Linked DNA regions of Homo sapiens. The protein of the gene in region 2 interacts with the protein of the main gene of each other region in a pairwise test. Each region holds a gene or a part of one and is shown on either strand. Other genes may lie near its edges.

Evidence for each region.
Region 1: the proteins of SLC13A4 (region 2) and ERMP1 interact in binary tests that used the Homo sapiens proteins (3 or more experiments, as listed by UniProt).
Region 3: the proteins of SLC13A4 (region 2) and DEFB108B interact in binary tests that used the Homo sapiens proteins (3 or more experiments, as listed by UniProt).

Annotation. Positions count from the first base shown.
Region 1 is NC_000009.12:5,784,067-5,788,146, forward strand, and holds the end of ERMP1 (endoplasmic reticulum metallopeptidase 1), read right to left. Parts: intron 3,528-4,080; coding exon 3,364-3,527; intron 3,243-3,363; coding exon 3,078-3,242; 3' UTR 506-3,077; downstream 1-505. UniProt on the Homo sapiens protein: Within the ovary, required for the organization of somatic cells and oocytes into discrete follicular structures.
Region 2 is NC_000007.14:135,704,185-135,711,218, forward strand, and holds part of SLC13A4 (solute carrier family 13 member 4), read right to left. Parts: intron 4,413-7,034; exon of another isoform or gene 4,067-4,412; coding exon 3,930-4,066; exon of another isoform or gene 2,626-3,929; coding exon of another isoform or gene 2,417-2,625; intron 2,289-2,416; exon of another isoform or gene 2,117-2,288; coding exon 1,944-2,116; exon of another isoform or gene 1,467-1,943; coding exon 1,412-1,466; exon of another isoform or gene 1-1,411. UniProt on the Homo sapiens protein: Sodium:sulfate symporter that mediates sulfate reabsorption in the high endothelial venules (HEV).
Region 3 is NC_000011.10:71,828,319-71,836,204, reverse strand, and holds the start of DEFB108B (beta-defensin 108B precursor), read right to left. Parts: upstream 3,006-7,886; coding exon 2,948-3,005; intron 1-2,947. UniProt on the Homo sapiens protein: Has antibacterial activity.

The DNA.
Region 1 (4,080 bases), on a different chromosome or scaffold from region 2:
GTTGTTCAGCTGCTTCACCTTGCATTGAACTGTTCTGAGAGAATTCACTCAAAGTTTAAATAACTTGCACAGAGATCTCTGAACTCAAAGTTCATGCTCTATTTTGGTGAGTGGTGGTGCCCTTTCCTTCTGTGGAGATTAGAATAAGCAATGAGTCACTCTGGCTGAAAGGCAACTTCTTCCCTCCCTCCTACCCTTACTCCCAAATAAAAGAACGCCCTTTACCCTTTGCTATTTTTTTGCTAATGGGGATGATTTAAAACTCCTACATAGGTGAAGCTCAACATTTACCTAATAATTTCTGTGAAATTCAGAAGTACCATTTCATTCTAAGATAAAGGATTCTAACTGAAGTAAACATTTCCATGTTGAGTTCTTTGCTCACATGAGCCATCTAGGTCTTTTAACAGCAATTAAAAGGCTCTGTGGACATGGAATAACCCTTGAAAATATGGGGATACAGAAGAACACAGATCTGTTTTTCAGTTAAAAAGATACCAACCAGTATATTAAACAGTTTATTTCAGTAACATTGTAAGGCAACAATTAATCCTCAGTAAGTCAGCAAACCAGTGACAAGAAATTGACAAACACTCCTTCTACAGCTTCCTGAGACAGCAGGCTGGCTTGTGGCCCCCTGGGTGGTAACATCTTAAGGAATCCTATCATGTTTGTTTATATATGCTAAACTGTAAAAACAAACACTTCATGCGACAATCATTCTTAGGTCAAACACAAGAACGAACTATTTTGAAATCAATTCCTCACACTTTTTCCCTGAATATGCAGTACTGTACTACTAACATCTAATTCTGTAGAAAATAATGCATTTGTTAGTGACTTTGTTAGAGCTTGAAAAGACCCTTTTAGAAATTATTTAAATGATCACTCTTTAAAAATTTTTTTTAATCTCAGAATCTACTAATGTGACAGACAAACGGTATGCTTAACAGAGTCATAAATACTGTGTATAATTGCTTGACCATTTCTGGCATTTAAATGACCTCCCAGAATATTACACAAGCCCTGAGACTAGTGAGCATCTTACTACTGACCTTGTACAATACCAAAGCTTCATAATGCTAAAGAAAACCAAAACAAAAGACAATGGTTTACACAGGGAAATAACCCTAAGGCAATATGAAAACAGTCATAATTTATTACTGATAAAGAGTAAAGGCATCCTTCCCATAGAGGGGGGGAATTCACAGGGAACACTAATTATATCAGATGAACCACGGGGATAGAAAATAGGCCCATTTTTAAAATTCATTGAGAAATTATTACTTTTTCTCCACAACTGTGATTCTATACAAAATATAAACCCTGCAAACCTTATGTGCTACCTGACAGATAAAAGTAGCAGGAGCCAGACTCTTGAAGCACTTGAGACTGATTTCTACAAAGTCCAGGAAGAGCAATGATTCCAGTGTGCAGTGCTGATGCATGTGTGAGCCTAACATGTTATTCAGCTCTGGTTGCAGCCCCATCTACATGGGCCCAGTTAGTTTTTAGGGAGTCACAGATTAGGCAGGCAACGAGGGGCATGATTTAAAAAGCACATCATACACATGAGACAAGCAGCTTCAAGGACGTTTTCTCCGGCAATGCATACTTACTGTGCTCTTTCTATTCAGACAGATCCACAGACCACCTTTCAAGAGCATTCCTCTCTCATTTCCTCCATCACCCAAGATAAATCTAGCCACCCTTTTTTGTTAACTGTGCCTTTTCTTTCAACTTTTTGTCCTTGTTAAAACTCAAAATTTGTCCAACGTTTCACATTTCCTAATGATAAAAAGAAAGCTTGCACAGTTTACCATTGATCTCACCAATGCCCTCACTGCTGGAACCAAAAAGCCATGAGAGGTACTGCTGTGATACACCTTACAAGCTACATAGCCATCTTCAAAATGAAAACCACCTTTTAAGTCCTCATGCTGCCATTACGCAGGATCTGAACCACCTACACGTACAGTGGTCTCATTCCAGTATAAGCCACAACCTCAAGTCTCAGGAAAGCCAGTCTGCTGGATAGTAAGTTACTGAGAAAAACTAATCTATTCAACTGGCTGGAAAACAAAAAGATAGGCCCAGTGCATCAGTAAGATTATACCATGAAGGACTAACCTTGTATAACACAAGACTCCTATGAAACAAAGAAAAGAGAATAAATATTTATAAAATTCCCACCACTCCCAGCCTTCCTTCTACCCCAGAATAGCCCAGATGGCAGCTCAGTGCTCTGAGGAAGGAAGTTAAGGTCATGTACTGGCACAAACAATATTCTGAACCAAAAGAACCTACGAAAACCAGAGGGGTATGTGGCCAAATATTCCCCTTTTCAACTTGGTAAGATGGAGAGGGGTAACAGACATGTTTCAGAGGAAAACAGGCATAGAAAACCACCTCAGGAAAGCAGCACAGCAGTGCATCTGTGTGTCCACTTGTCAGGACAGTGAGTCACCAGCTCAGCACAGGGTCCAGGCCTCAGCACAGAGAGACAAAGCACATTTGAGAGGCTGCCTGAAGAAACAGCTTGACACAGGCTACAGCCTCAAGAGTGCAATGCTTCTCTCCCAGCCCTATGGCAATCACTTTCCAGTGACCTACACAGAGTTATATTCTCAAGGGGAATCATTACCTCAGTGAATGATATTTTACCCACCATCCACTAATACAACAAATGGTTTTGGGGCTTAAATTGGAAACAACTTTTGTCTCATTAACAATGCTCTGACAGTGTACATCTTTCTTGATCCTAAAGGGGCAGCTATTGAAGTGGATTGTTGGCTTTGTCCTTAAGGTCATATAAAATGACGTGTGTGTAGTGGCAGTACCCACATGTGCTGAAGTGCCAAAAGACTGGCATTTTCAAGTGTCAACAGGCCATGCATCACTGCGCCACAGCTAAACCCTTATAGTGCTTGGCCCTGAAAAGCGTTAACCCAGAAAGCTCTTTGAACATATGATCATTAAAATTCATTGACTTACGTTACAAACATCCACGTAACATAGGGAGAAACCATGTCACATGGAGTATCCACTGGGCATGTACTTAGAGCTCATCCACAAGATTAAAATACAAAGAGATCGTAGGTGCACACCCAGGCAGAGGGAAATGTCCAATCTGGGAACTTTTCCTTCAGAGCATCCAGTTGAGGGGATCTCTTGTCTTCCCCAGACAGATAGTGGGCAGCAATGGCCACGGTGACCATTCCTTCAGGATGTTCTTCTGAAACCTGCCAGAGAAAATCAATTAGTTCTCCAGTTCTCAGAAGCCAGAATACTGAACCCAAGGTTCTTGCTAAATACCACCTGGGAACCTAATCAATGAAACAAACAATGCTGGGAAATTGGCACCTGCACTTCTATCCAGAACTGCCATGCAGAGGCCTGGAGTCCATGGGAGTAAAAGACAAAGTAGTCTCCTCCTTTACTTGTGACTGGGGTGCCATTGCCAAGAGACCACTGAGAAAGTGTTGACCCTTTGTGGGCTCGAACATAGAAGGACATATGGCTTGGTCCTGTAAGGTAAAAGGAAGAAAGAACAGTTAATCTTTTTAAAAGGATCAAAAAAATAACCCACAATCCAAACCAGACTTCATAAAGGTTCATGCCTGCATGACTTTAAATATACTTACTATAAACCTAATGGAGGTTTACCAGTTTGGACACTTAGTGTGAATCAACAAGGTTAAATAATGAGGTACAGGAGAAAAGGCACAGACTGTAAATGAGAAAGCCTGTGTTAAGTTGGTCCTATCACTTAACTGCTGCATGACATCAGGAATTTAATCTATGTCACAATTTCTTCATTGAGGGGATTATATTAGAAAAAGCATATGAAAGTGTTGGCAAAACTGCGAAGTGCTGTAACAGTACTGAATAGGACTGCCATTATGAATGGAGTTGTAATTTTCAGAGTTGATCATGTAACACCTTAAAATATGTTTTACTAGTTTTTCCCTTCAAGCTGGAAAATATTAGCTCAGTTCTGAAAATTTAGTCATCACTGGGAACTTCCAAGGAAACTGATGACAGTGGAAGTCAAACTAAAACTAAAATAGATAAAACTAA
Region 2 (7,034 bases):
AGAGGCAGCCCCAATACAGGGGTTGTGGGGGAGTTAACCACCAGAGCACAGGCCCTGGAGGGTGGCGTGAGTGTTAATCCCAGAGCAAGGCCCTGCCATCAGGCCTGAGGCCCTGCAGAGGGCGCCATAATGGGATGCTCCAAAGACCCTGAAGGCAGTTGCCCCACAGATGAAAGAGCCAGGGACTGAAATCTCAGAGAGGGCACCAACCCCAGACCTCAATAGCCCCCATCCAGACCCTTCTCACCCATTTATCTTTCCTGTACCCTAGAGCTGCTGTCCTAAGCCCAGAAAAGTCAGAAGCAGCAGAGTGAGGGTGCGGTTAGGGGAGGAGGAGAAGAGGGAGGTGGAGGAAGACAGAAAGAAGCTCAACTCCCTCCCCCGACTTACTTTCACCTTCTTTCTTCTGCAGGCCTAGGGTGAGGGGTGGGTGGGTATGGGAGAAGCTTTGGCTGAGAAGTTGAAGTTTTGATTTGAATTTGGACTAGTCTCCCAAATGTCTGAACATGAGATTGTTATAATACCTGAAAGGAACCAGGAGAGCTACGGGATTTGCCTGGGATATCATCAAGGGTGATGTCATCAAGAAATCCAATATGCTATGATTGAAGATAGTGGTGGAGAAAAATAAAGCGATTTCCTGATGGCACCCTTCCACGTCTGTCCCACTGTGAACGCTGATTTCACCCAATGTGCGTTCTCCTTTTTTACAACAAGGGCAAATGACAGAGCTGAGCTGTATTACAAATCCAGCTTTTAAATGTGGACTATTCATTGTGGCATGCCTGTGGGCCACATTTTGAAATAGAATCTCCAAATGGAATCAGCTGTTAATAGAGCTTCCTCCAGGAATGTCTGAGGCTGCTTCTCCTTTTCCAGCTCTGCTTCCCATCATCACAAGGCCCTCTCACCTCCTGTCCCCTCATCCCCTACCTGTCACCTAAGTTTTCTTTGCCATATCTAACAAGACCAAATCTACCAAGACCTTATCTAATATCTAGAAAATATTTCATGATTCTCCAAGAATCTGCAGTGGCATCGAGATGTGAACGGTTTTCCGTTAACAAATTAAACATACTATTTTCCTAAAAGGGACATGAATTTAGAAGAGATTCTGCATGGTGGCTGTGTGGACAGTTCATATATCCACTGAGATTCAGTGTGGCCTTTTTATTTCTTCCTCATCACTGCAACACTGTGGTTAAGGGAGTGACTCTCCAGGTCCTGACAGGTCACTCCTAGGTATGGAGAGGAAATGGGGGAGGTTGGGCGGGGTGGGGGGGTGGTGTGGCAAGGTGGTGAGCTTGGGTGGTACATCTCAAAGAGCTGTTTATGGGTCTAGGTCCCCTCTTTTCTGACCTCCCCTATGGACTCTGAGAGGCGCTGTCTGGGAGAGGGCAGTCATACTCACTCTTCATTGACAAAGATGAGTTCCAGAGAAGGTTGGCTGTTCTTTACATCCAGACCTATGAGTAGCAAAGAAAAGCAGTATGTGAGAGGTGGAGGCTGGGGCTGACCCTGTGGGTTGGAGCATAGCTCAAGGGCTTAGGGCGGAGGTGGGCCATATGGAGTGGGTGACATTTCTCCTTCCCTTTGCTCTGTAAATAGAATGGGGCTCATGGATGCAGACTGGCCCCAGGGTTTTGCAGTGATCCTTGAGCATTTGGGGGCAAAGAGCAGTGTGTACCCTTGAGCATTTGGGGGAAAAGAGCCCAGAAGTGAAGGAGGAAGGAAGAGCCAGAACAGGGAGTTCAGGGAAGCTTCAGAGTCCAAGAGCTGGGATGGGAAAGAGGAGAGAGGGAAGAGGAAGGGGAATGTGGGGGCATGGCTGAGGGGGTCCTGGGGTGGGCACAAAGTTGGGCAGTCTCCCTAGAGGAGCCAGGCAGGAGGACCCCAGGGGAGGTTGGAGGAGCAAAGGAGAGATGAACTCCAGCAAACTGTACTGATGGGTTCGGCCTCTTCGGTGTTGGAGTTGCCCGCCACGAGCTGCTCGTCCTCAGCACTGACCAGCTCCTGCAGCACGGCCTCCACGATGGGCATCACCATGGCGGTGGTGGAGGTGTTGGACAGCCACATGGACAGCAACGTGGTACAGCACATGAAGCAGAGCAGCAGCCTGGAAGGCAGGGAGGGTTGGGGCAGAGCGTCCACGGAACACACATCCCTGCGGCTCCACAGTGGGCCTCCTACCAACCTGCTGGGGCTGGTCTAGACAGCTGTGGCTGGAAAGGCAGGCATTTGTCCTGCAGGGTGCCATTCAGCTCTGTACTCCCAATGCTTGGCACAGCGTAAGTATTAAAGCAATACTTCTTGAATGAATGAATCACACTTCATGGACTAGCGGCCTTAGCCAGAAAAAAGTCCTTAGTGAAGCAAAGAATAGCTCTGGTAGTAGGGCCACAGGGTGTAGACTTACCATTGTTTTTCTGTCTCCACGGACATTGGCTGGAGCTTGGCGGTGATGTGTGTTTGTGTGTGGAAGGCAATACTTTGTTTGCCCTCGCAGCCAGCAATTCTGTGAGCGCCACGGCACTCCTTGCTTTGCCGCCAAGTCACCATAGATATCAGTGACCCAATAGAGATGAATGTTTGGAGCTCACAGTTCCACCCACTACCTGTCAACATGCTGAAGGCATAGCCCCCAAAGTCACAGAAGTGTCCCGTGTCACTGTGTGCACTTTTCCAGCTGACATCTTAAAGCGTCAACACTTGGAGAAAAACACTAACAAGGTTAACCCTCTAATTATTTCTCTTTGGCTTTGAGAACGTTGTGCAATGTGTGCCTGTACAGACATGTCCTAGTTTCCATAAGATAAGCCAACATAAAGACTACTGTGTTTATTATTTTAGGTGGAATCACTGACTTTGCACAACTTGGGGACAGTACGTTTATCATGTGGACTCCATTGGCTGACAGCGACTTGACTTTGCCAATTCTGTACCTACACGGGTAACTGCCTCTGGGGGTGGCAACTTGCTGACTGATGTAAATAGGGAGGAGTGGAAATGTGAGAGGATAAAAATTCTTGCAGATAGTACACAGAGATTTTAAAGAGCCACAGAGTCTCCATATGATGTGACGAAATGCCACTGTGTGCCTGGGAGGTTGAGTGTAGGGGCAAGATTATTACTGAGTTAGGGGGTGGATTAAGCTGTAGTTATCAGACCTGTTTGACAATCTGGGAGACAGGAACATGCTTTTAAGCATAACCTATAGTCATCTAAATGACTCATACTGAGAACCAATACTATATTATTTATTTATACTCGTGTTGACTCCCATAGGAGTCAGGGCAGCTTACATAAAATACAGCAAGAAAGTTGTAAACTAGAAGGAGGTGAGCAGGATATTCCAAAAGGGAAGGTACAGGCAGGGGAATCCAAATGGAACATTGCTGAAGCTAACACAAAACTCAACCTTGACACCGTAACACATTCCCCGAGGGTGGGACTCCCTCCCGCATCACAGTCAAATGCAGTGTCTCTAACTGGGTCTGTGGTCTGAACTGATGACAAAAACTCAGGGTGGATGGGAGGAAACATTCCCGTCTCCTTCAGTGACAAAGGAGAAGACAGCCACTTCCGGTCCAGCCTGTTCCCTGATACACAGGAAACAGGTTGGGAAACAATTTCTCTTGGTCCATCCTGTTTTACCTGATGGGCCCCTATATGTTGTAAGCTGCTGCCCTTGCAGCCTAGGTCAATGGGTAAATTCTTTGGATAATGATAGCAAGGTCACAGGTTTAAATCTCTACTCCATGATCACAGGCCCTCTCCCTGGACGGGTCCTATGGCTCTGGTGTCAGCCCGACCCTTTGGTAAAAAAACAGCTGAAGTGGACATCCCGCAGTGACCTGAGACCACTGTCCTGGTGGCACACTGGGAGCTAGAAGGATGCCCTATGTCCTGGCATCCCAAATAAGACTTACATGCCCGGCTTGGCTCCGGCCATCAAGACCATGCGCAGAGCAATGCGCTTATGCAGGTTCCACTTCTCCACGGCAGCCGCCACGCAGATGACCCCCACCAGCAGCAGCGTGGTGTTCTTGAAGTACTCCGCCGCCACCTGTAGGGAGGCCAGGCATGTCAGTCACCCTCCCGGACCAAAGACCCAGGGCCCAGCACCAGCTGGGAGAATGGGCCATACCCAATAAAACCTGTTCTCAATCAAAGAGGCTGGCGAAGGGGAGGCAGGGGGGTGAGGATTATTGAAATAGCCGCCCATCCTAGAGTCACATCTACTGAGCGTTCATTGTGGGCAGGCACTGTGCTAAGTACTTGACAGATTATTTCATTCAATCTGGCCCATAACTCTATAGGATAGATGTTCTTCTCCACTTTGGAAAACATAAAACCACTGTATTTAAATATGATGTGAATATGATTTTAAAGAATAAACACATATAATTTTATATTGATCTTTTAAAATAACCCTAGGTTTCTCCCCAAACCTAATTTTTAATGTTTTTAGAAAATATTAGAAAATTATTTTCATTTCATTTCTATTAGAAAATTAATACATACTCAGTATGGAAAACTTCAAAATATAAAAAAAGTTAAAGACAAAATTACCCTTAATCATGCTACTGTAAATACTTATAGTTTCTTCCATTTTTCCTATACCTATATAGATAAATGCATTTATACAGTATGTATACTTTTATATCTTGCCTTTTTTTCATTTAACATCATATCCTCATTATTGTTTTTCTTTGAGACAGAGTCTTGCTCAATTTTTTTTTTTTTTTTTTTTTTTTTTTTGTGAGATGGAGTCTCGCTCTGTCGCCCAGGCTGGAGTGCAGTGGTGCGATCTCGGCTCACTGCAAACTCCGCTTCCTGGGTTCACGCCATTCTCCTGCCTCAGCCTCCCGAGTAGCTGGGACCACAGGTGCCTGCCACCATGCCTGGCTAATTTTTTTTGTATTTTTAGTAGAGATGGGGTTTCACTGTGTTAGCCAGGATGGTCTCAATCTCCTGACCTCGTGATCCTCCTACCTCGGCCTCCCAAATTGCGGGGATCAGAAGCATGAGCCAGCGCACCCGGCCTTAATTTTAAAAATTTAAATAATTCCCAATAATTCTCAAGTTCCAATGAATTCCAAAAATGAAAATAGTACAAGGAATACCTATACACTCTTTTTTTTTTTCCCTGAACCATTTGAGGGTAAGTTACACACATTTTGGCTGGTCCTTTACCCCTAAATACTTCAGTGTATATTTTCCTTTCTTTCTTTTTTTTTTAAAAAAAAATTTGAGACAGGGTCTCACTCTGTCACCCAGGCTGGAGTGCAGTGGCATGATCACAGCTCACTGCAGCCTCAACCTCCCAGGCTCAGGGTATATTTTCTACGAGTAGGGATTTTCTCTTCCTTAGTGGCCACAGTACCAGTTATAAACTCCTTTCTACTTTTTAATTTAATGATGGGGAAGTTGAGACATAGGGCAGTTAAAAAGATGTTTCGCATGTTTGAGGTTCATGGACCAAATCTTTGTTGATTCTCTCACTTGGAACATTCTCTCTTTCCATCTCTGCCTGTACATTCCAATCAGACTTTGAAGCCCAGTTCAGGCCTGGCATCCTCTAGAAAAAACCTTTCTTGTGGCCCTAGCCTCTGATTCCAGAATATTCCTCCTGGGCACCATTAATTCCGCACACCACAGAGCACTTGGAGCAATGCTTGAATGATTGCTTCCTGATTGTACTGTTGTTTGTTTATTTTTGTATGTGTACTTCTCTTGTCTCTCAACTAAATTTTTCGGCTGTGAATGGTTCCCTTCTATATATCTTAACACCTAGTAGAATAATATGCAAAAGTAGATGCTCAATAAATATTTGTCACATACATGAGAATTGCTTCCAACTGGAGGAACCATACAGAAATTGAGAGGAAAAGCTATAGAAAAGTCTAACTTCTAATTGAAAAACCCTCTTAAAGTGAGAAAACAAGAACATTTTTAACTGCAGCAAAAATAAAAATTCAACAGGAAAGGAAATACATAGTAAAATACATAGCATTTGAAATAATATGTACATGATCATACTAATTTTGATTATTGAATTAACAAAAATTGTGATTGAGCATATTGGGAGGATGGTAGAAGGCGAAGTGGGGGATGTAAAAGAAAAAATCTTCCCGGGAGGCAGAGCTTGCAGTAAGCCGAGATCGCGCCACTGCACTCCAGCCTGGGCGACAGAGCGAGACTACGTCTCAAAAAAGAAAACAAAAAACAAAAAGAAAAAATCTTCATCTGCTATAACAAGAAGTCAACTGATAGCCGCTTAAAGTGAGAACTCAAGGACTAATATAAGAATATCATATGGGAATGGAGCTTAATGACAGAAGAAGCTGTTAACAAAGTTACAAGTTATTGACTCTGAGGGTGGGGTGGGACTTGGTAGGGGGGGAAGTGGGAGGGATGAGGAAAGAGACTGCTGACTTTTCATTATAAGCGTTCAGTATTAAAGTATTTGATTTTTAAACTTTGTGCACGAAACACTTTGATAACATCAAAACCAAAATAAAGGCAGGCTGCTCCATCTCTCCTTTCTCTCTTTTGCCCTATGGACATTTCATTGCATCTGGTTGATGAGGGTTGTGTAGGAGAAGGGACATCTGCCCTCACTGTGACCATTTCCTGGGGGGAAAAGCCCCTGCTTCTGGTTAACCCAGTGTTTGTCTCTAAGCCCATTCCTCAGCGGACTACTGTCACGAATGCCCCCTGGGGGCAGGGAAGGCCCCCTGCTCTGGACAGCTTGTGACTCCGTGGCAGAGTCCACTCTGAGAGGGCGGTGATCATGGTGGTGGGGGCGGGGGTGGGGTTGGGGGAGCGGCCCCCTAGCGGGAGCAGGAGGCACTGCAGGATTGTCCTAGGGAAGTGGTTGAACTTGGAGGTTCAAGGGCCTTTCTCACTGCCTGGTTACTTTCCCAGGCTTTGTGGAGGCGGCTTTGTGGCACAACTGGAGCTTTATTTTCTTGTCTACCGAGGAGAGAAACCCACAGAAGATGCGGGACCGTTGTGGGAGATGGTCTTTC
Region 3 (7,886 bases), on a different chromosome or scaffold from region 2:
AGATGTTGGTCACTTAGTAGAAACAAGCTGAAATCTGAGTTTTTTGATCCCTGAGCTTTCCATCTCTTCCTTTTATCTGTAAGTAGTCAGCTACTACGTATAGTAGTACCCAAGCCCACTGGCCTTGTGCTAAAATTGGCCCTTTGCAGCTGGAAGAGTCATAAGAGATTAGTATAGTGTAGAGGATGAACCACTGACCTGTCTTGTGATATGTGATAAATCACTCTTGAACATCCCTCTGTGGTAGTACTTCTTGCATTCTACTACGGGTGGTGTTTTCTCATCTGACCTCAATTCTTGATAATGAATTTCTTGAGGGCAGGAATCATATCTTATTCTCCTCTGTATGTATATTCCAGAATCTGATTAAAGTCTTGGCTTATAATAGCTATTCAGTAAATGATTGTGGAATAATTGATTAAAATACAGCTGTTTTCTAACTTGCAATATGTTTGTGCAGAAATTTGTTGTTACTCTCGGTTCACAGGTCTTTGAATCATGTGTACTATGTTACTATACCTGATTCTATTGAGCATTATATTTTCAAACCACTTTTCAAGAAACTTAATACAGAACTACCATTTGACCCAGTAATCTCACTACTGGGTGTATATCCAAAGGAAAATAAATCAGTCTTGTAAAAAGACCTAAATTTGTATGTTCATCACAGTGGTATTCACAGTAGCAAAGGTATGGAATCAAACTAGGTGTTCATCAACAGTGGATTGAATAAAGCAAATGTAGTACATATATGTCATGGAATACTATGCAGCCATAAAAAGAACAAAACTGTGTCTTTTTCAGTAACATGGATGCAGCTGGAGGACTTTATTCTAAGCAAATTATCTCAGGAACAGGAAGCCAAATACCACATATTCTCAGTTATAAGGGGGGGCCGAGCAATAAGTGCACATGGACATAAAAATGGGAACAAGAGAGATTGGGACTTACCAGGAGGGGAGGGAGAGGGAGTAAAGTCTGAAAAGCTACCCTTTAGGTACACCCTACCTGCGTGACAGAGTTATTCATACCCCAAACCTCAATATCACACAATATACCCATGTAACAAATCTGCACATGCACTCCCTGAATCTAAAATAAAGGTTGAAATTATTTTAAAAAATTGAAATTACAAAGGGCTTTTTAAAATTATGATGTACCATTGTTCATTTACAAGAATTCAAGTAACATTAGGGATTTTAAAAATCTTTTGTTTTCATTTGTTCTTTGCTTGTAAACCTTGTGTATTGCATATTGTGGACACTATGTCTTTTCCAGCTATTTGCTTTAGGAACAAAAGCTAGAGTTACAATGAACATCATAGGCTGTCTTGTCTAGTCGCTTACCTTAAAGATGAGGAAATAAGCTGACGGAAAGAAAGAAACTTGCTCAAGATCACCCAGTGATGGAGTGAGACAGATGATAGGGATGGCACTAAGGCTTGGTATTCTGAGCCTCATTCTATTTTCCACTCTTGCCCTCTCTCTGTGTCCTCCTCTCTTCTCTAGCCTTCTACAAAAAGTTTGCAGTTCTGCTTCAATGTCTACCTAAGGACATCCAGAGGAGGTGCCACCTTTCATTAGGCTGCATTCTTTAGCACCATCCTGTGTTTTCTTCTCCAGTCTTGTTGCATCCCATTTTTGACTGTGAGTAATGCTTCTGCCTGTGCTGTTCTATCCAATTAGTTGCTTCTATTTTGATTGAGTGACAATGAAAACAACAAAAAAAATTTGTTTATCCAAATTTGGAATTTTTAAACCTTGATTAAAAGCATTGATTTTCTGGGGTTATATATGTAAGACACATATTTTAAAATATTTTTAACTGGTTAAAAAAATCAAACCCATGTATTTAGCCAGGGTGACTATTTAACAAGTACTAGGAATTCAGTAATGCCACAAGGATAATAATCTTATAAGTCAGTCCCCGATGTTGTGTGCTACCGAGTTAATATAATTGGATATGGTATCACCTTTTTTCAGGCTTTAGGAAGTCACACAAAGGAACGGCACAACAGAACTCCAGGGTGGGATGTATTAGGGAAAGCCAGGATATTAAAACAAAGTGTTGACTCTGACATTTACCCCACTGTTGAGAAAAGCACTTCAGTTTCCAGGGCCTTAATTTTTTTCTCTATAAAACAGCAAAAATAGAGGCAATAAGTTGCTTATTCATCCTTGAATACACATGTTCAGGAGTTCCAGAAAATTTTTGGATCTATTTTGGGTGTCTGGTAACCACCATGGGCAAATCCAAGAAGTCCTAGACACACTTCTCCAAAGCATGTCTGTGCAAGGGGCCTTATACCTGTGATTAATGTTTGCATGCTGAATGCAGTAGGCTATGCCCTGGTGTGGGGTCATCCCTGGTTCCTGTGTTTAAATTCTACATTACAAGACTAGATGCTGAGAAGGAAGAGGGAAAGCCAGGGATGGAGATGGAGCCTTAAGGGGAAAAGTCAAGCCCCAGTGACCAACAGTATTGGGGAGCAATAGGTTAAAGATTTCTTAGATTATAATAATATTTTCAAAGAGACTTCTTCCACCAATCCCTTCTGTCTGAGCCTACCACAGCTTTGGCATAGCTCTTATGCCAGTTCTTAGGAAAACTAACTGTTGCTGAAGGAAACTAGAGGAGCTTTGGAGACCAAGATTTAGTAGAATAATGCCTGATTTTTAATTTTTGATGTCTAGTAACTGCTAGTAAACTTGCCTAATTTGGAGATGGAATAAGAGGGTTTCAAAGACTTGAAACACCATTGACTTCATTTAACTGAGTTGCTATGGAGAATTAATGAATTAGATGGCTGCAGGCCTCTCAGCCAATGAGTCTTCCAGATTTCCTATGAGACCCCCTTTTCTGGTTATAGGTGATGGTGATTTCTCTTTGAGTATTGAATCCCTGTAAGGTGTTAGGCACTCTACTCTTACCAAGTTTATTTTGTTACCTGGTAGAACTTGGCTCATAAAGAAGAAAATGGCGAAGAGGAGGACAGCAATCCTCATGGCTGAAGAAAGAAAAAAGTTTGTCTTCATTTCCAGGAGGCAGAGAAAACTTCCATCTGTGGCTGTCTAGCACCAGTGGAATGTCTCTGTTTGGATAATAAGAGTCTTTGTGTACCTCATTAGGCATATTCATAGATAGACGTGTTCTATGCATGCAAAATTGCTTTTATGGGAAGACTGAGAGTCCTTTTTTTATTGGACAGCCAGTTCATTAGTATGATGTGGGTGCACAGTTTTGGCCATAAAACCTTGTTAAATGGGGACATAAGCTACAAACATTTTGGCAAAAGATGAAAGTTTATGAACAAACAACCATTTATATTGTTACAATAAATTAGACTGTGTTGAGAAACCAGTTGGTTTCATTAATGACCAGACATTTTGTTAGTGAACACTTCCCAGACTTTACTTGCCCTGCTAAGAATTAATCACCCCACTTTCTCCTGGTCTGAAAGTCCAAAGTGCTTTGTTTATGTTACAGTACTTACTGCCTTGTATGTTAGATTAGTGAATGTATATTTGCCTCATCCACTACTGTATGAGCTTCTTGCTTGCTAGGACAAGACTATATTACTCAGAACTGAGGAGGGAGTTGAATCATGTGGCTATTTATTCTCAAATCCTCTTCACCAAGTGGAACAAAACAACAGTGAAAGACCACCGCACATGGAGGCAGGAGGTCTGGATTTGGATTCTAGATCTCTAGATCTATTACTAACTGGAGGTATGGATATAGTCAGGAAAATTGTCTTCCTTAGGTGCTTCCTTGATAGCGTCTATAAAGGTCGAGATCTGTTGGATCTAGATCAGGGGATTCTCAATCATTACTATGCAGAAAATCAACTGGGAGAGTTACTTTGCAATACAGATGCTTAGTTCCATCTCATGATATTTTTATTTTTTTTAAAATTGGTCTAGTATTTTTTGTTGTTTGTTGTTGTTGTTTTTATTGATCATTCTTGGGTGTTTCTTGCAGAGGGGGATTTGGCAGGGTCATAGGACAGTAGTGGAAGGAAGGTCAGCAGATAAACAAGTGAACAAAGGTCTCTGGTTTTCCTAGGCAGAGGACCCTGCGGCCTTCCGCAGTGTTTGTGTCCCTGGTTACTTGAGATTAGGGAGTGGTGATGACTCTTAACGAGCATGCTGCCTTCAAGCATCTGTTTAACAAAGCACATCTTGCACCGCCCTTAATCCATTTAACCCTGAGTGGACACAAAACATGTTTCAGAGAGCACCGGGTTGGGGGTAAGGTCATAGATCAACAGCATCCCAATGCAGAAGAATTTTTCTTAGTACAGAACAAAATGGAGTCTCCTAAATCTACTTCTTTCTACACAGACACAGCAACAATCTGATTTCTCTATCTTTTCCCCACATTTCCCCCTTTTCTATTCGACAAAACCGCCATCGTCATCATGGCCCATTCTCAATGAGCTGTTGGGTACACCTCCCAGACGGGGTGGCGGCCGGGCAGAGGGGCTCCTCACTTCCCAGAAGGGGCGGCCGGGCAGAGGCGCCCCCCACCTCCCAGACGGGGCGGCGGCCGGGCGGAGGCGGCCCCCCACCTCCCTCCCGGACGGGGCGGCTGGCCGGGCGGGGGCTGCCCCCGGGGCTGCCCCCCGCCTCCCTCCCGGACGGGGAGGCTGGATGGGTGGGGGCTGCCCCCCACCTCCCGGACGGGCCGGCTGCCGGGCGGAGACGCTCCTCACTTCCCGGATGGGGCGGCTGCCGGGCAGAGGTGCTCCTCACATGCCAGACGGGGTGGCGGGGCAGAGGTGCTCCCCACATCTCAGACATGGGCGGCTGGGCAGAGACGCTCCTCACTTCCTAGACGGGATGGCGGCCGGGGAGAGGCACTCCTCACTTCCCAGACTGGGCAGCCGGGCAGAGGGGTTCCTCACATCCCAGATGATGGGCGGCCAGACAGAGACACTCCTCACTTCCCAGACGGGGTGGTGGCTGGGCAGAGGCTGCAATCTTGGCACTTTGGGAGGCCAAGGCAGGCGGCTTGGAGGTGGAGGTTGTAGTGAGCCGAGATCACGCCACTGCACTCCAGCCTGGGCAACATTGAGCACTGAGTGAACAAGACTCTGTCTGCAATCCCGGCGCCTCGGGAGGCTGAGGCTGGCAGATCACTCGTGGTTAGGAGTTGGAGACCAGCCCGGCCAACAGAGCGAAACCCAGTCTCCACCAAAAAAATACGAAAACCAGTCATGCGTGGCTGCACGTGCCTGCAATCGCAGGCACTCGGCAGGCTGAGGCAGGAGAATCAGGCAGGGAGGTTGCAGTGAGCGGAGATGGAGCAGTACAGTCCAGCTTTGGCTCGGCATCAGAGGGAGACCGTGGAAAGAGGGAGAGGGAGAGGGGGAGGGGAGGGGGAGGGGGAGAGGGAGGGAGAGGGAGAGGTGGTCAAGTATTTTTCATTAAATAATGTAAACTTTCTTAGTCTACATCTAATAAAACTCCCACCAGCATACAAATACATTGAATGATATTAGCAGCAGAATCTTTAAATAAAGTAACCATACAGAACTATTAGGCCATCTTTTTTTCATTGCTTATTATTTCATGCTATTTGTCACCATTGTCATCATAATCAGCCTCATCCTACATTGTTGAACACCCATCACGGACCATATGGCATAAACATTTTTCCTACTCATAAAGGAGCATATGTTCTCTATATGTATATAAAATTAATGTCTGAACAAACTGGCTTAAACAAGGCAGAAGTTGGTTTCTCCCTCACTTAAATCTATAGTTCTACCTACCATGGCTAATACAGATACCTGCCAAATTCATTAGGGATGCAGGCCCCTTCCAGCTCTCTGTTCTGCTATACTTTAGAAGAGGCTCTAGTTTGGCTGCCAAATCCCCACCTATCATTTTTGAATTCCAGGCAGCAGGAAGGAAAAAAGCCAAGAGAGAAAAACAAGGGAGCATCTACCCCTCCTTTTAAGTATTTTAACCAACCCCTCTTGTTTTTTTTTAACTGACTTTGTTGAGCTATGATTACATTTAAAAAGCTGTACATATTTAAGGTGTACATCTCAGTGAGTTTGGGGATAAGTATACACCATGAACACATCACTACCATCAAGATTATAAACATATCCTTCACCTCCCTAAGTCCCCCCCCTTTATTATTATTATTTTTTTGGTAACAAATATTGGTAAGAATACAAAATCTATCCTTTTAGCAAATTTTAAGTGTGTAATACAGTATTCTTAGCTGTAAGCACTATGCTGTAAACGAGACCTCCAGAACTTACTTATGTGGTATATCTGAAACTTTGTGCTGTAACCACATCTACCCATTTCCCCAGCACCACGGCCCCTGGCAACCACCATTCTACTCTCTGCTTTTGTGAGTTTTTCTATTTTAGATTTCAAATACAAGTGAAATCATATAGTAATTGTCATTCTGTGGTTGGCCTATTTCATATAACGTAATGCCCTCCAAGTCCATCCATGTTGTCACAAATGACAGGGTTTCATTATTATGTAACACTGAATAATATTCCATTGCATATATGTATCAGCCATTTATCCTGATACTCTTCCTCCACCTGCCTCCCAACAGTCCCCAGTGTGTGTTGTTCCCCTCCTAATATCCATGTGTTCTCACTGTTCTGCTCCCACTTATAAGTTAGAACGTGCAGTGTTTGGTTTTCTGTTCATGGGTTAGTTTGCTGAGGATAATGGCTTCCAGCTCCATTCATGTTCCTGCAAAGAACATGATCTCATTCCTTTTTACGGCTGCATAGTATTCCATGGTGTATACGTACCACATTTTCTTTATCCAGTCTGTCACTGATGGACATTTGGGTTGATTCCATGTCTTTGCTATTGTGAATAGTGCTGCAATGAACATATGTATGCATGTATCTTTATAATAGAATGATTTATATTCCTTTTGGTATATACCCAGTAATGGGATTGCTGGGTCAAGTGGTATTTCTGGTTGTAGGTCTTTGAGGAATCACCATACTGTCTTCCACAATAGTTGAACTAATTTACATTCCCACCAACAGTGTAAAAGTGTTCTTATATCTCAACAGCCTCATCAGCAGGTAGTTTTATTTAAAAAATTTTTGAGAAACCTTCATACTATTATCTGAAATGGACATAGTAATTTGTATTTCCACCACAAGTATACAAGGGTTATCTTTTCTCCACATCCTCACTAATACTTGTTATACATCTTTTTGATAATAGCTATTCTAAGAGGTATCAGATGATATTTCATGGTGGTTTTTTTATTTACATCCCCCTGATGATTAGAGACGGTAAGAATTTTTTCATATATTTGTTGGCCATTTGTATCTGTTCTTCTGGGAAATGTCTACTCAGATCTTTGCCCTTTTTTTTTTTTTTTTTTTTGAGATGGAGTCTCGCTTTGTCACCCAGGCTGGAGTGCAGTGGCGTGATCTTGGCTCACTGCAAGCTCCACCTCCCAGGTTCATGCCATTCTCCTGCCTCAGCCTCCCAAGTAGCTGGGACTACAGGCACCCGCCACCATGCCCAGCTAATTTTTTGTATTTTTTGTATTTTTTTTTTTTTTTAGTGGAGACAGGGTTTCACCGTGTTAGCCAGATCTTTGCCCATTTAAAAAAAAATTCAACTTTTATTTTAGATTCAGGAGATGCATGTGCAGGTTTTTACATTGGCACATTGTGTGATGCTGAGGAGTATGAATGATCTTGTAACCCAGATAGAAAACATAATACCCAATAGATAGTTTTTCAGGCTTTTGTCCCCACCTTCCCTTCCCCCTCTAGTAGTCCCCAGTATCTGTTGTTCCGATCTTTACTTCCATGTGTAACCAATGCTTTGTTCTCACTTATAACTAAGAACATATGGTATTTGGTTTTCTCTTCC